2 separate regions of the Homo sapiens genome follow, and region 2 is linked to region 1. Evidence: fine-mapped expression QTL. A gene starts in region 1. The other region holds a variant in brackets. All regions are shown on one strand. Distances are from middle to middle.

Region 1 (8,371 bases):
TAATCCCAGCTACTCAGGAGGCTGAGGCAGGAGAATCGCTTGAACTCGGGAGGCAGAGGTTGCAGTGAGCCGAGATTGTGCCACTGTACTCCAGCCTGGGGGACGGTGTAAGACTCTGTCTCAAAAAATAAATAAATAAATAAATAAATAAATAAAAATACAAAATTAGCTGGACGTGGTGGCGCACGCCTGTAGTCCCAGCTACTTGGGGGGCTGAGGCGGAAGAATCGCTCGAACCCAAGAGGTGGAGGTTGCAGTGGGCGGAGATCGTGCCACTACACTCCAGTCTGGACGACAACAGAACGAGACTCTGTTTCAAAAAAGAAAAAAAAAAAAGAAAAAGAAAAATGCTACCAGTGTGTTCAAAAGCCTGCTGCTGCACCCAAGCACCTCAAAGGAAGGCCTGGTGGCATCGTATGCCCCTCCATGCCCAGCACAAGGCAGGAGCCCAATACATGTTGGCCAAATGAATGACAACACCCACAGTCCTTGCCGTGACCTACAGGGCCTGTGTGATCCAGCCCCCAGTGATTCTCTGGCCTCATCTCAAACGCTCTCCCCTGTCACTTCTGTGCTCCACCCCAGTGGCCTCTTTCAGTTCAAATCCAACCTGCTTTTCCCCGCTTCATTCTCCCTTCCTCCCTACACACAAGCTGATCCTTGGGCCTGGAAAGCTTCCTGCCTTTGCTTCATCCACTCCCCACTTGCCCTGGAGACACAAGTCAGTGGTGCTGCCCCCAGGCAGCCCTCCAAGTGCCTCCATGAGGGTAGCACCAGGTGTGCCGTATCCTCTACACCTGGCGTGCAGTGGGAGGGCAACACGTGCTTGTGGAATGGGGCATCAGTGCAAGAATGAGAGACAGCAGTTAAGGATGGAACTTCAGAGCCTTGATCCTCGGGACAGGTTCCACCCTCTCTACCCGACATTCCTTCCTGGGCTTCTGGGCTGTGCACAAACCACCTTCGTGATCCACCTTTGTGATTATTTACTTCGTATTTTTCTTTAAATCAATTCACTTTCTTAGCCTCCTTCTGAGCGATAAAATCATGGTTGGATGTGTTAATTTATATTAACAATTCATGACTATTGGTTTAAAAATTGTTCCTGGGCCGGGCGTGTTGGCTCATGCTTGTAATCCCTGCACTTCGGGAGGCTGAGGCGGACGGATCACGAGGTCAGCAGATCGAGACCATCCTGGCTAACACGGTGAAACCTCATCTCTACTAAAAATACAAAAAATTAGCCGGGCGTGGTGGTGGGCGCCTGTAATCCCAACTACTCGGGAGGCTGAGGCAGGAGAATGGCATGAACCCGGGAGGCGGAGGTTGCAGTGGGCCGAAATCGTGCCACTGCACTCCAGCCTGGGCGACAGAGTGAGACTCCATCTCAAGTAAAAAAAAAAAAAAAAAGAAAAAAAGAAAAAATTGTTCCTCTAGGTAGCTCCTAAAAGGATCCTGTCCAGTTGCACCCGCTTTGGGAACTGCTGCTCCACCCTGTATGATGTTGGGGTTGCTGGCCCTGCGGGTTGTCTTTGGTGCAGGCTCTTTCTGCCAGTGAGCAAAATGCATGTGTTCCTTTCGCTGTGAATTTCTTGACGGGGTAGAAGCCGAGCTCTCAACCCACTTCAACTAAAGCAGCCTTTCTATGGGTTTATGTATTTCTTCCCTGCCTATGTTTTAGTCCAGAAAACGTAAGTTCTTCTAAACTAAAACCAAAGCCAAAACCAAAAAACATGAAGGTTGACAACGATCATGCCAGGGCATAACTAAGTCACAGTCACAGTGTGGAAGACACCCACACTTGTGGGTGGGGAGAGGCTCCTTGGTCTCAGATGTGAAGTGCAAGAGGCTTTCTACTCTAATATGAAGACTCCAGGAGCCTGGGAGGGGCTGTGGCCGGGAGAGCTGAGCACCCGTGGCCGGGTGAGCTGCTGTGTTATCCATGCTCCATCCCCGACCACTGGGTCCTTGGGTAGGCCCCACCCACTCCCACTCAGTGTCCCTGACTGTGAACTATGAGACTGGGAGCTCAGGGACAACCTGGGGCTCATTGTCTGCTCTGAGGGAGCAGTGAGCGAGAAGGGTAGGGACGAGGCTGGGCCTGGGCCAGGGCACACTCTGTCCCCGCAGGCCCCTGGCTTTCTCCCAGGCTTCTGAGGCCTCCGCCCATAGCTGCATCACCCCAGGGTGCTTCCTCTGGGAGCCTTGGACATTGCCCCTCCTGCAAGAACCTCAGAAGGCCCCAATGGGAAGTTGCCTCTCATCAGCCTCTTCAGCCCAATGCAGGGCACACAGGAGGAAGGAGCAGAGGCATTTGTGGGTGGGGGAAGTACACATAGGGTTTGTGTGGGGCCACAGATCCTGCCTGGCAACTCCTGTCTGCCAAATGGGGGGTGATTATCCTGGTGAGACACATGGTAGGTGAAACTGAGCACCTACTATGTGCCCTACCAGGATAATCACCCCCATTTGGCAAATGAGGACACTGAGGCACAGAAAGGTTAAGTGATTTGCCCAAGGCCACACAGCTAGTTAGCAGCAGGTTCCACAGCTTAACTACATATGCCTCCTAAAAATGTCCTCCCATACAGCCCCTCACATCTACTGTGGCCGTGCCAAGGGGAGTTGAAGACCACAGGAGAAGACACGCACCCATTTGGCCAGACCAGGGCTGGGAGCTGGGGGTAGTTCTCAGAAGTAGAACTTGTTAGCCAGGGAGTGCTGGGGGCTGCTTCCAGACACAGGCCTGTGGAGGACCCACATCTTGCCTCCAAGGTGTGACTGGGACCACTGTAGGGCCAGGAGTGACAGGCACCCGGGGTGAAGCCCGGGCTAGGGATAGATGGCTGCCAGCCTATGTGAATAAGGACACCCCAGGGCCTCGGTGTGCGGCTGACACACTGTCCATGCCATGCCTCCAGGGCTGTCCAGGAGCCCCAGCATAGGGTTCCAGATCTCCCACCAGAGCCAGCCCAGGAACTGGACCCAGTTCCAACACCTTGGCTCCTTCCGACATGGGGACCCCCATCTATGTCCTCAGAATGCCTAGCATACAATTCTTACAGCGATGGGGCTGGAGGCCTTAGCTTAAAGGCTGTAGGGGTGTAAGGAGCGCCAGCGTGTAACGAAGGTCTCATTCCCCAGAAGGCTCTGGGGGAAGCACAGGGCAGGCGGCTGGGCTGCCTCAAGACACTGGGCCGGTTTCCCCACCTGTGAAGCGGGAGCAGCGCTGTGGGTGGCCTCCTTGCACTCATAGTGTGGCCTTCGAGGCTAGGGCTCCACAGGAAGGTGGCTGAGAGTGGATGAGGGCCTCATGGGCCCAGCACACCCTCCCACAGGGAGAGGGGAGTCCACCCTCTTCCCTGCCCAGCTCCCCCATACCCACTGGGGCTAGCCAGCCTTCCTGTGGGACAGAGGCTGTCCCCACTTCCTCCTGGTCACCCCTACCCCACACGCCCACCTCCCCTCCACAAAACACATACCCTGAGGGGCCCTCTGGTCCAAGCCTCCCCTTTCACAGGTGAATTAACTGAGGCCCAGTAAGGCCAGGGCGTTTAGAGACTCAGGGATGAAGCCACATCAGACCTCAGGTCTGGCTGAGACCAGGGCTCTGACCACCCCCGAACACGGCCTGGTGGGTTGCAGTCCAGGGGCTGAGGTGGGGGAGGAGTGGGGATCCAGTCACAAAACCCCAGGACATAGCCCACCTGGGCCGTCCCTGCCCACCGCACTGCTGGGGGGGGGGGGTGCGTTCTGGAGTCATTTGGGGAAAGGATCCCATTGGCCCTGTTTAGGGGACCTTTTCCCAGACCAAGAGTGGATTGCAATGGGGCCCTGGATCTGTCTCAGTTGCTCACCAGGGAGGGCGTGGAATAGGCTCCACAACCCCCAAACCTCGGTCCCCATCCATGCCCCGGCATCTTGGCCGGGTTGTAGGAGCGAGGGAGAACGCGACTGTAACGCGGGCGTTGAGCACCTAGAGTTCCCCTTCCTCTTCACTGAGAGCTGCGGCGGAGGCTTTAGACCGAGGAGCGAGATCTAAGGTTAAAGAAAGGGCCTCTGAGCCCAGTGTTGGCCAGAGACCCCACAGGCGGGCCGGGTTCGCCCTTTGCCTTCGGCCGCGCCCCACCCACCAGGGACAGAGTGGCCGCGGCCGAGCCGGGTCCACCCGCCGCAGCTTAGCTCCGCTCCGCCGCCCTCCCCGTCCGTCCTCCCCAGGCTCCCGTCGCCCTCGCCCACCCTGGGGCCCCCTCCCCAGATGGGAGCCCCTCCGACCCCTGCGAGGCCCGCTGGGGACCCACTTGACCGCGAGATCGTAGTGGGAGCTCGGCCAAAAGAATTCTTCGCTTTCCCTGGCCCTCAGTTTACCCATCTGGGAAGAGGGGCGTCGCGGCCGCAGAAGTCCAGCTCCGCACGCGCCAAGCGCTGGGTCTGCAGCTCCCTCGGTTCCCGCGCACCCAACTGCCCCACGACCCCTACCCGCGCCCGCAGCCCCCGCCCTCCCGCCCCACTTGCCTGGGCCGCCGGGCGCTGGAACCTGGACCCTGGACCCTGGCGGGTTCCGAGCTGCGCCGCCGCCGTCCCTGCCCCTCCAGCACTGGACTCCTCCTTTCCCGTCTTTTTAAAGGGAAGTAACCGGACCCGACCACTACTCCACCCGATTCACCCCTAGCGGGCCGCCCGCCCGCAGCTCCGCCCGGGCTCCTCCCCCGTCCGCCCGCGGCTTCCCGGGAGCCCCCCAGGGCTCCTCCGCTCCTCCGACGGCCCGGCCTTCCCCCCGGGGCCTGGGATGCACCAGGGCTCCTGCTGCCCCCGACGGGGTCCCTGTCGCCGCAGCCCGCGGGACCCGCCGGCCACATCTGGACGGCATCTGCCGCGGGGGAGGGGCTCAGAGCCTCGCCCTGAGTGTCCCGCAGGGAGCCTTGTGCATCCGGGGCAGGAAGCCAGCGCATCCCGTGCAGACGGGTGGTGCAGATAACGGACCCGCCACAGCACGCAATTCAACTTTCTTGGTACCTGGGACTCGTAGTTCAGAAGGCGCAGTAGCACGACCTTGCGAAAAAGCACCGGAGTCGGGAACACGCGCTTCTCATTTTTTTCTTTTTCCTTTATTTGTTTTTGAGACAGAGTCTCGCTCTGTCGCTCACGCTGGAGTGCAGTGGCACTTTCTCCGCTCACTGCAACTTCCTCCTCCTGGGTTCAAGCGATTCTCCTGCCTCAGCCTCCCGAGTAGCTGGGACTACAGGTGCACGCCACCACGCCTGGTTAATTTTTGGAGTTTTAGTAGAGACAGGGTTTCACCATGTAAGGCTCGTCTCGAACTCCTGACCTCAAGTGATCCGCCCGCCTTGGCCTCCCAAAGTGCTGAGATTACAGGAGTGAGCCACCACACCTGGCCTGCGCCTCTCATCTTGATCCTGCTTGCAGAGGTTGTGCAGCCACCGGAGCCCCGCCAGGGTGGGGCTCCCTGTCTCTGAGCAGCTTTAATGGGCGGTACCAGATAATATTTGTATTGGTTCCCTGTGGCTGCCGTAACACAAACATAAAACAACACTAATTTACTATCTTACAAGTTTTGTAAAATCAGAAGTCCAAAATGGGTCTCGCTGGACTAAAAGCAAGGGGGTTGAGGGATACAGCTTTCTTGAGGCTGGAAGGGAACCTGTTTCTTTGGCTTTTCTGGCTTCTAGAAGCTGCCCACATTCCTTGGCTGGTGGCCCCATCCATCTTCAAAGCCAGCAGTGGCCCACCAGTCTCTCACAATCTGTCACTCTGACACCAACTGTTCTGCCTCTTGCTTCCACTGGTGAGCATCTTTGTGATTACATCGGGCCTACCCAGATAATCCAGGGTAATCTTTCTATTTTAAATCAATGGATTGGCAACTTGAATTCCACCTGCAACTGTAATTTCCCTTCGTGGGGTAGCATAACATATTCACAGATTCTGGGCATTAGAACCAGGGCATCTTTTGAGGAGGAGGATATGATTATGTCTACCACAATATTCAAGCTGACTTCCAGACTTTCAGATTTATAATCAAATTTAAGCTCTTCCTTATCCATGATTGGAATCCTTGGGACAGTTAAAGCCTTGCACTGCATGGTCCAAATTGATGGCTTTGTGACTGGCTGTGTTTTATTATTTTACTTGCACTTGCTCTTCTTTTGGAAACTTCATGGAGGACCAGGGTACCTCTAGGTAGCAGCCTTGCTTCTCCTTCCTAATTTGCTCTGTACTCTTAAAAACCAGGTCACAAACATATCGGAATATAGAATTGTGTGTAAAGTAAGAGTAAGTAGGCTGTGAGTGAGACCTCAGAGGCTATTTTGTTTTTTTTCTCTCTCCAGTCTCATGCATGTCTGACTCTCTCCACTATCATATCTGGCATAATCTCCTCCATGTCTGACAAGCCAAGGAAAACACTACATCAGGCCAGGAGAGAATCTTCCCCCCGGAGCTCTGCCTCTCCCACCCAGGCTCCGCGGAGATTTTAAGAGGAGTAAAGATCCTGCTGTGGCAGAAGTGCAACCCAGCTTTCTGGAGGGCAGTTTGGGGTTAGGAATGAAGATCACTTTCAGAAATTTAGCCTGAAGAGGCTGGGCGTGGTGGCTCATGCCTGTAAGGCAGGTGGATCACTTGAGGTCGGGAATTCAAGGCCAGCCTGGGCAACCTGGTGAAACTGTGTCTGTACTAAAACACAAAAATCAGCCAGGTGTGGTGGCGCATGCCTGTGGTCCCACCTACTTGGGAGGCTGAGGCACGAGAATCGCTTGAACCTGGGAGGCAGAGGCTTCAGTGAGCTGAGATCACATGACTGCACTCCAGCCTCGACTACAGAGCAAGACTGTCTCAAAAAAATAAATAAATTTAGCCTAAGGAAATAGAATATTTATATGCAAGGCTTTTCACTGCAGTATTACTTATAATACTGGAAAATCAGAAATAGCCTAAGTGGGCTGGGCGTGGTGGCTCATGCTTGTAATCCCAGCACTTTGGGAGGCCAAGGCAGGCAGATTACGAGGTCAGGAGTTCGAGACCAGCCTGGCCAATGCAGTGAAACCCTGTCTCTACTAAAAATACAAAAATTGGGTGGGCATGGTGGTGGGTGCCTGTAATCCCAGCTACTGGGGAGGTTGAGGCAGGAGAATCGCTTGAACCCGGGAGGTGGAGGTTGCAGTGAGCCGAGATTGCGCCACTACACTCCAGCCTGGGTAACAGAGAGAGACTCTGTCCACCCCCTGTGAAAAAAAAGATGAAGAGACAGTGCTTGCTCCTGCAGAAAGAAAATTCATGGGCTCATAAACATGTAAAAAGATGTTCAATAACTCACTTATTAAGAAAATGAAAATTATAACTACAAAAGATACTATTCTTCACTTACCAGATCAGCAAAGATAAAAAGCAGTTTGGTAGGTCAGGCACAGTGGCTCATGTCTGTAATTCCAGCACTTTGGGAGGCTGAGGCAGGAGAATCACTTAAAACCAGGTGTTCGAGACCAGCCTGGGCCACGTGGCAAAACCCTGTCTCTACCAAAAAAAAAAAATTAGCCAGGCGTGGTGGCACGTGCCTGTAGTCCCAGCTACTTGGAAGAATGAGGTGGGAGGATTGCTTGAGCCTGAAAAGTCAAGGCTGCAGTGAGCCATGATCGTGTCACTGCACTCCAGCCAGAGCGATAGAGTGAGTCCCTGTCTCAAAAAAAAAAAAAAAAGTTTGGTAACACACTATTCGCAAGGGTGGGAGGAAAACAGGCAACCCCCTGCATTGCTGGTTGGTGTGTAGACTGACTCGACCTCAAAAGAGAATATTTGGGCAGTATTTATCAAACATATAAACACATGTCCTGTTTGACTTGGCACTTCCAGAAATTTATCCTACAGATAATGCTCACACGTAAGTGAAAGGAATACACAAGGCTTTCCACTGCATCGCTGCAACATTGAGCCAAAACCACAATGACTTTTGCACCAATCTAATAGCTGGAGACAACCTAAATGTCCACCAATAGAGATGGGATAAATGAATGATTATTGTATGCCCTGCAATGGAATGCATATGGCTATCAAAAATAACTAGGATTCTCCTTACAGAACGCTCCCCAGGACAGGTTGTTTAGTAATAAAACCTAGACGCAGAGCCGTGTTCAAGTCGTTTATCAATTGTACTTAAATGGAAAAAGCACAGAGACACACAATTTGCTTTTATATGTGCACGCGCTGATAACACGAGTTGTTTCCCAGGAAGGAAACTGGAGCTGGAGAACAGGGTGGGAAACGCATTTTTCAGCATATCCTTTTGTTCTCTTGAATCTTGAACCATGTGAATACCGTGTCTAATCAAAATATAAATAAAATTAAAAGTGAAGACGAA
Region 2 (8,371 bases), 31 kb after region 1:
TATTAATTCTTCCATGCTTTATCTCCAAGGCCTAGAACAACGCTCAGAGTAGGCATGCTAAATGAATGAAAGGCTTTCCATATATCTAAGTAGCATATTCCTTGGGCTTTAGGGACTTCGAAGATAGACAACAGTGTGGTGGTGGGGGCTTTCTGGAGAAGGTATAGTAAAAGGCCTAACACATGATGTCGTGGAGACTAGTGGCTGGTTAACAGAAAAAGTCAGTTAAAACTTCTTATTTAACACTGCATCATAAAGTCAGCATTTTCAAATGCTGTTCAAAATATGTTCCAAATGCAAAAAGAAGAAATAAAAATGCAAACTCCATTTTTGTTATAACTACAGGATATCCAAAATTCCAAACCCCCAAACAGGTGAAAAAGCTGTCAAAAGCAGGGAGCTCAGGCAGGGACTCCTTTGCTTCACAGAAGAAAAAGAAGAAAGGATGCTACAGGGAGAGGACAGGGAAGCTGGTGATCTCAGAAAGATCTGCAAAAATATGTACTTCCTGTGGGTAAAGGACACACTCCAGCACCAAATTAATTCCTTGTTTTTGGAAGGCAGGAACTTCCTTGGACCTGAAGTTGAGGCTAAATGAGAAATCACGCAAGCTACATTTGCCTCACAGAGGTGGTGTCTGTGGTAGTAGAGAAGACATCCTTTGCATTGTGGAGATGCTAAGAGACGCCTTGCCTATCTCGATTGGCTGGCTAGAGACTAAGGGTAAACGGACTCACCCAGAACCCTAAATCAAGGGAACAACTGTAGCTAGCCCAGAACAGAGTTTTGGTAGCTCCTCCAACAAACATCCTGCAAAACAGCTGGTCCCTGAAAAACTTGCCTATTTAAAGATAAGTATACAAAAAATCTAAACAGGATCTATATAAATATACAACGAGAAAAAATTAGGAAAGAAATAGGAAAACCAAATGGCAGACTAAGACCACAGACTGGAAAAGGGCCTCCATGGACTAGATACAATGGTAATAAAATATTTTACACAAAGAAAAAAAGAAAACTTGATAAAATAGTTGTCTCTATGAAATGAGAGCTCAAAGCAGAAATACAAGAACTTTAGCAGAGGTAGGGAGACGAGAAGAGAAGACAAGCTGCATACTGGCAGAACTGAGGAAAGAAGTGAAAGGAAAAATACTGTTACAGAAATGAAGGTGAAACTGGAAGAAGCAAAGGGAGAAGAAACTGCTAAAAACACACTAGGAACAAAAGGAGAGAAATGGAAAAAAAAAATGAAACCAAAAAGGGCTAAAAGAAATAGAGAAGAAACAGTTACAAAAGACAGCAAAGGAGATGTAATATTTGCATAAAAGAAAACTTTAACATGAATGGGAAAAATATGTAAAGATATGTTCATAAAGATAGAATCTAAGGTGTTTCTGAACTATAAGAGGATTGGGGTCTACACACTGAAAGGTCACACTGTATCCCAGGGGAAACAAATTCAGAATAGGCAGTACCAAGATACACCTTTAGGTAAGGTTTCTGGGTTCCTGCAACCAGGCAAAAAGATCAAATCACTTAAAAGAGAAACAAAATAATGAAAATTTCCACATTAATATTTAATGCTAACAGAAAATGGAACAACACCTACAAAATTCTCAAGGACAGAAAGTGTGACTCAAGGACTTTATTTATTTTTATTTTTATTTTTGAGACGGAGTCTCGCTCTGTTGCCAGGCTGGAGTGCAGTGGCGCGATCTCGGCTCAGTGCAACCTCCACCTCCTGGGTTCAAGCGATTCTCCTGCCTCAGCCTCCCAAGTAGCTGGGACTATAGGCATGCGCCACCATGCCCAGCTAATTTTTGTATTTTTAGTAGAGACGGGGTTTTACCATGTTGGCCAGGATGGTCTGCATCTCTTGACCTTGTGATCCGCCCACCTTGGCCTCCCAAAGTGCTGGGATTACAGGCGTAAGCCACTGTGCCCAGAAGACTCAAGGACTTTATACCCAGTCAACTGTCCAGCAAGGGTAACAGAATGGGGACCATTATTCCCAGGTATTTCTTTTTTTCTTTTTTTTTGAGACAGAGTTTCACTCTTGTTATCCAGACTGGAGTGCAATGGCGCGATCTCCGCTCACCACAACCTCTGCCTCCCCGGTTCAAGCGATTCTCTTGCTTCAGCCTCCTGAGTAGCTGGGATTACAGGCATGTGCCACCACGCCTGACTAATTTTGTATTTTTCGTAGAGATGGGGTTTCTCCATGTTGGTCAGGCTGGTCTCAAACTCCCAAACTCAGGTGATCCGTCCGCCTTGGCCTCCCAAAGTGCTGGGATTACAAGCATGAGCCACTACACCCAGCCAAGTATTTCTTAAGGAATCTACAAAAGGAAGCACTTGTGCCAACTAACAGGTGACTGGAAAAACTATGGCAGGGCCAGGCCTGGTGGCTCATGCCTGTAATCCCAGCACTTTGGGAGGCCAAGGTGGGTGGATCATTTGAGGTCAGGAGTTCAAGACCAGCCTGGCCAACATGGTGAAACCCCGTCTCTACTAAAAATACAAAAATTAGCCAGGTGTGGTGGCATGCACCTGTAATCCCAGCTACTCAGGAGGCTGAGGCAGAATTGCTTGAACCCGGGAGGTGGAGGCTGCAGTGAGCTGAGATCGCACCATTGTACTCCAGCCTGGGTGATGGAGCGAGACTCTATCTCAGAAAAAAACAAACAAACAAAAGTTAGCTGGGCAGAAGTGGCATGTGCCTGTAATTCTAGCTACTTGGGAGGCTGGGGCAGGAGAATCGCCTGAACCCAGGAGGAGGAGGTTACAGTGAGCCAAGATCGTGCCACTGCACTCCAGCCTGGGCAACAAGAGTGAAACTCCGTCTCAGAAACAAAAACAAAAACAAAAACAAAAAAACTACGGCAAAAACTTACGGTGAGCACTGAAAACTACTTAACTGTAGGTCTAAGACTAAAATAGGATTAGGGTAACAACAGATCGTCAATACTATATGCTTTGATGATGTATAAAACTCCAGCTAGCAAAAACTAGGAAGAGAAGAGGGGAAAAAGGAGGGAGGTAGAATACGAACACTGATTTCCTCACCCTCAGTAACTGAGAGTCCATGGATAGCATTTAAAACTAAAGTAATAAAGATATGGTTAATCTGACTTTTACTGTGACTTTTCCCGTGAATGTTCAAGCCTACCATCATTGTTATAAACAACAAAACTTTGAGAGCCACTGAACTTTTGGCTAGGGCCAAAAAACCCTCTTTCTTTCTTTCTCTTTCTTTCTTTCTTTCTTTCTTTCTTTCTTTCTTTCTTTCTTTCTTTCTTTCTTTCTTTCTCTCT[CTCTCTCTT/C]TCTTTCTTTACTTTTTTCTTTCCTTCCTTCCTTCTTTCCTTCCTTCCTTCTTTCTTTCTTTCTTTTTTTAGAGACAGGGTCTTGCTCTGTCACCCAGGCTGGAGTGCAGTGCCATGATAATAGCTCACTGCAGCCTTGAACTCCTGGGCTCCAGCAATCCTCCTGCCTCAGTCTCATGAGTAGCTGGGCCTATAGGCATGTGCCACCATGCCCAGCTTTTTTTCTTTTTTTTTTTAATTTCTAAGTAGAGATGAGGTCTTGCTATATTGCTCAGGCTGGTCTTGAACTCCTGAGCTCAAGGGATCCTCCCGCCTCAGCCTTCCAAAGCATTGGGATTACAGGTGTGAGCCAATGTGCCCAACCTAGAAGGATCTCTTCTGCTGATTAGAGTTTTTTGCCATTATTGCAAAAAACTCACCCAGAATGCATCATCTACAATTTCCAGTTTCTTAAAGTTAGAACTCAAACTGCTGTGAAACAGTAAGTACAGAATCCTAGATTTTTAAGATCCTTCCACCTCTACTCTTCCATAGTTATCTTGCCCAAACCTAATTCAGCTTCATTTCCTTTTTAAAGTACTTGTCCTTCCAAAGCATTCCTCTTACTTTTCACAGAGTAATTTTCTTTTCTTTTTTTTTTTGGAAACAGTCTCACTCTGTTGCCCAGCTGGAGTGCAGTGGCACGATCTCGGCTCACTGCAGCCTCTGTCTCCCAGGCTCAAGCGATTCTCTTGCCTCAGCCTCCTGAGTAGCTGGGACTACAGGCGCCCGCCACCACGCCCAGCTTATTTTTTGTATTTTTAGTAGAGACGAGGTTTTACCATGTTGCCCAGGCTGGTCTTGAACTCCTGAGCTCAGGCAATCTGCCTACCCCGGCCTCCCAAAGTCCTAGGATTACAGGCGTGAGCCACCATGCACAGCCAGAATAATTTTCTTTTCTCCCTCATAATTTAATCTGTATATTATTTAATCAAATTACATAATTACAGTACCAGTTTACTGGCATAAAGAGATCTGGAAACATCACAACTGACCTTTGGTAAGCAAAATGACTCAAGTGTAAGTGAGCAATGGATGAGCGAACAGCTGCCCGTGTTAGTCCTGCTAGTCAGTTCAGACCTTGTCCACTGAATATGAAGTTGACCATGAAAGATGGCTAACATTTCTCTGATTGGAGATAGATGGGACTTAAGAAAGTTGGAGGCTGCCAAGCATGGGTGTGGGAGCAAGCAGTCAAGAATCAACACTGAACTCATGTACCTAAAGAACTGGAGATAGAGTCAGGGCACAAAGAAGGGTTCTGTTAAACAACAGAAGTTGGCTGATGCGCTGACCTTGAGGATGCCTGCAGAAATCTAAGTAAATACCTGAGAGAACACTGACAGATAAAGTCACAAACCAACACAGGGAGGCTGGTAGGGAAAGAAAATCTGAGACGTGAGTCATGTAAATGGTATTCAAAACCACAGGAACAGAAAGAAAGAGGCTAAGTCTTCGAGAGGCCTAAACTCAGCTTCACACAGTGTGCATTGAACAAATATGAATTATGAAGTAATAATAATTCAACCTTCTACTCAGCAAGCATGGGAAATAATGACACTAGCAAAATTCACTCAGAAGTGTTTATTAACAGAGTTTAAACAAAAGTGCTACTGATTTTTCAGTACTTGGCAAATCCAATGGTAATTCAACCTAAAAATAATTACAACCAGGATGAGTTTCATCTGACATAAAGATTAGGATAACCCCAATAAACCAACAGGATATCTTGATATAAGGGGAAGGCAATAGAGAAAATGCTTCGGGTGATAAATCTGAAATCTTAAAAGGTAAAATGAGGCATAGATACTGATGTTTTCCAAGATCAAGATACATAAATTTATGACAACATTTTAGTGAGTGAAAGTCGGTGTTTTTAGCTCTGTCCTATTTAAATTTTTCTCTTGGAACCCCTGAAAATAGTCAAGAGTAGGAATGAGTACTGTAGTCAAAATGTCAATTCCTCTAAAGACAATCTAACCTGTTATCGAGTCTCTCCACTCTCCCCCAACACCTCTGGACATCTGTGTCTCTTTATTTTTTTTTTTTCTTGAGACATGGTCTCACTCTGTCGCCCAGGATGGAATACAGTGGCATGATCTCGGCTCATTGCAACCTCCACCTCCCAGATTCAAGCGATCCTACAGCCTTAACCTCCCCAGTAGCTGGGACTACAGGCCACATGCCACCACACCCGGCTAATTTTTTTTCTTTTTTTTTTGAGACGGAGTCTCGCTCTGTGGCCCAGGCTGGAGTGCAGTGGTGCGATCTCGGCTCACTGCAACATCCGCCTCCCGGGTTCAAGCAATTCTCCTGCCTCAGCCTCCCGAGTAGCTGGGACTACAGGCGTGTGCCACCACACCCAGCTAATTTTTTGTATTTTTAGTAGAGACAGGGTTTCACTGTGTTAGCCAGGATGGTCTCGATCTCCTGACCTTGTGATCCGCCTGCCTCGGCCTCCCAAAGTGCTGGGATTACAGGTATGAGCAACTGCGCCCAGCACACCTGGCTAATTTTTGTATTTTTTGGTAGAAATGGGGTCTCACCATGTTGGCCAGGCTGGTCTCAAACTCCTGATCTCAGGTGATCCGCCCACCTCAGCCTCCCAAAGTGCTGGGATTACAGGTGTGAGCCACCTCGCCTGGCCTCATTTTTTCTTTTCTAGGATGCTATCACCTCATCCTCCATCCCTTGAAGGTACTTGCTTCTATAACTGGACCTACTTACTGTCTGCAACACAAAGTTAACCTCTGCAGACAAAAGTAGATTAAGACCAGGCATAGCAGCTCATGCCTGTATTCCCAGCATTTTGGGAGGCCTAGGAAGGAGGATTGCTTGAGCCCAGGAGTTCAAGACCAGCCTGGGCAACATAGTGAGACCTCTGTCTCTCTAAAAAAAAAAAGTTTAAAAACTAGCTGGGCATAGTGGCACAAGCCTGTAGTTCCAGCTACTCGGTAGGCTGAGGTAAGAGGATCACTTGAGCCTGGAAGTCAAGACTTCAGTGATTGCACCACTGCACTCCAGCCTGGGAGACAGGGCGAGACCCTGTTACAAAAAAAAAAAAAAAAAAAAAAAAAAAAGTAGATTAAAATGAGTCTGCTAGTTTCATATCAGAATTGAATCTAAGAAGAAAAATAAAAGTGTTTCTTCAAGGATACAGATGTGCCTCAGGAACCTAGCTCTAGAACTACTAGGGGTGGGGACAAGTCAGTTGCAACAACCCTCCGGAAGGACAGAGGATTCCATGCTCTTCAAGGGTTCCATCCCTGGTTGTTTCTCACTGAAATCAAAGAAAGTTCTGAATCTAATCCCATGTCAACAGAGATCACTTAAAAACAGACTGATCTGGTACCTGAAGATAATAAACAAGAAGGCATAAGCAAGGTATTTAAATTACCTTTTACTCTAGTAAAAACACAGTCTCCAAACCTTAAATTGGTCATGTTCCAAATGTTTAAGTATTTAAATTTACAATGCATTTTTCTATAAAGGTAATAAGTAAGATTTTCAAGGCTAGCAGCTCATGAAAGCAGACTTAAATCCATAAAGCTACCCAAAATGTGGTACCAGAGAGCACCCCTGCCACTACACCTAATATGAACAATACTGTTTCTATAATAAAATGCAGTTCTGTATTGGGATGGCAGGATTCCATCTAACCGAAAATTTCACAGGCAGAGAGGATAAGTAAAATCTTTTGAGACACTAGCAGCATGTTAATGCATGCCACATCCCAAGCTTAATCGAATCCATAGAAACCTCTAATCTAGATCAATCCCTCTCCAGGTCCCTTGCACTGTAGGGCAAATGCCTGTTGTGCTACAAAAGACAGAGGCTCACATTCCTACTGTGGAGTCTTTCTCAAAATAACTGTGTTATACATAGAAGACAAAAACACTAATCAAATATAAAAGAGCATGGTCACAGTGCTTGTATTAAAACATGAGGATGCCAATACTGCAACACTCAAGTTTTGAAAAAGAATTGTTAATCACTGACAAGACTCTAGTCTACTATATAAAAAGCTGAGTGCTGATAGCTTTTTCTTTTTATTTGATACAGAGTCTCGCTCTGTCGCCCAGGCTGGAGTGCAGTGGCGTGATCTTGGCTCACTGCAGGCTCCGCCTCCCAGGTTCATGCCATTCTCCTGCCTCAACCTCCGGAGTAGCTGGGACTACAGGCACCCGCCACCACACCTGGCTAATTTTTTGTATTTTTAGTAGAGACAGGGTTTCACCGTGTTAGCCAGGATGGTCTCGATCTCCTGACCTTGTGATCCGCCTGCCTTGGCCTCCCAGGCTGATAGCTTTTTCTACTCCTTCGTGGCATAGCTGGTTTCATTAATTCCTAGGAAAGGGCTTCAGAAAATAAGTAGGGAAGAGATTGTTGAGAGATGGGAAATGCATCATTTTCTTGTCTATACTTGGGGGCATGGTGGCTATTAATGAGCCAAAGGGTAACGACGCTCTGAGGTGACTCAGCACTGACGGGAAGAGAAAATCATCTGAGAGTCATCTTGGCCCAGAGTCAGACTCTAGTTCCCATATTATACATTTTAGAAAGAAATGAAAAGAGGAAGAAGATATCTTTATGAGTAGTATTGAGGACCTGGTACATATGCCTTTTTCTCTCTTACTCGTACTTTCATTCCAAAGTCCAATGTTTTATCGGTGTTTTAAGACAAGCAAAGGACTGACTATCCTCATTCCCTTGCATCTCTTTTACCTAAAAATGAACATATGGTAATTAGACTCAATGACTGTTGGCTGGATGTCTATGTAGGTGTAACTACAGTGAACAACATGGAACACATTAACAAGTACCAGGCATACTTGACTTCATTGAAAAGTTGACTTCTAGCTAGGGAGACAAAACAATATGCATGAAAGAGACATTAAATCACCATTAAATCATTTTAACAGAAAACTTTAAAAGCGTATTACACACTCCCATGACTTCTAAAAAAGAATATTCTAAATGTAATTGGGCTTTTTTTGGGGGGAGTGCTTT

Which allele goes with the higher level. Alleles are on the strand shown, and positions count from the first base shown. SD is a standard deviation of normalised expression in the study named.
For the expression in whole blood of the gene that starts at base 4,596 in region 1, CTCTCTCTT is the high allele of the variant in region 2 and C is the other (moderate effect, 0.64 SD a copy in TwinsUK).

Evidence for each region. PIP is the estimated chance that this variant, and not a neighbour inherited with it, causes the effect. A credible set is the group of variants that fine-mapping cannot tell apart.
Region 2: its variant is the best candidate, but not a certain one, in a credible set for the expression of ANPEP in whole blood (TwinsUK, PIP 0.72).

Annotation. Positions count from the first base shown.
Region 1 is chr15:89,810,257-89,818,627 of GRCh38, forward strand. It overlaps ANPEP (alanyl aminopeptidase, membrane), which reads right to left and starts at 4,596. Exons shown (of 21, transcript NM_001150.3): 1 at 4,516-4,596. RefSeq lists an enhancer at 4,165-4,664, promoters at 4,532-5,686, 4,532-5,020 and cis regulatory regions at 4,635-4,640, 4,892-5,020, 4,928-4,931, 4,930-4,959, 4,977-4,979.
Region 2 is chr15:89,840,963-89,849,333 of GRCh38, forward strand. All of the region lies in intron 8 of ARPIN-AP3S2 (ARPIN-AP3S2 readthrough), which reads right to left. The region is part of intron 4 of AP3S2 (adaptor related protein complex 3 subunit sigma 2); the gene reads right to left. Among named protein-coding and RNA genes, the nearest start is that of MIR5094, 5.6 kb to the right of the region's middle. RefSeq lists an enhancer at 7,244-8,371. The variant CTCTCTCTT/C (reference allele first, on the strand shown) is at 3,315.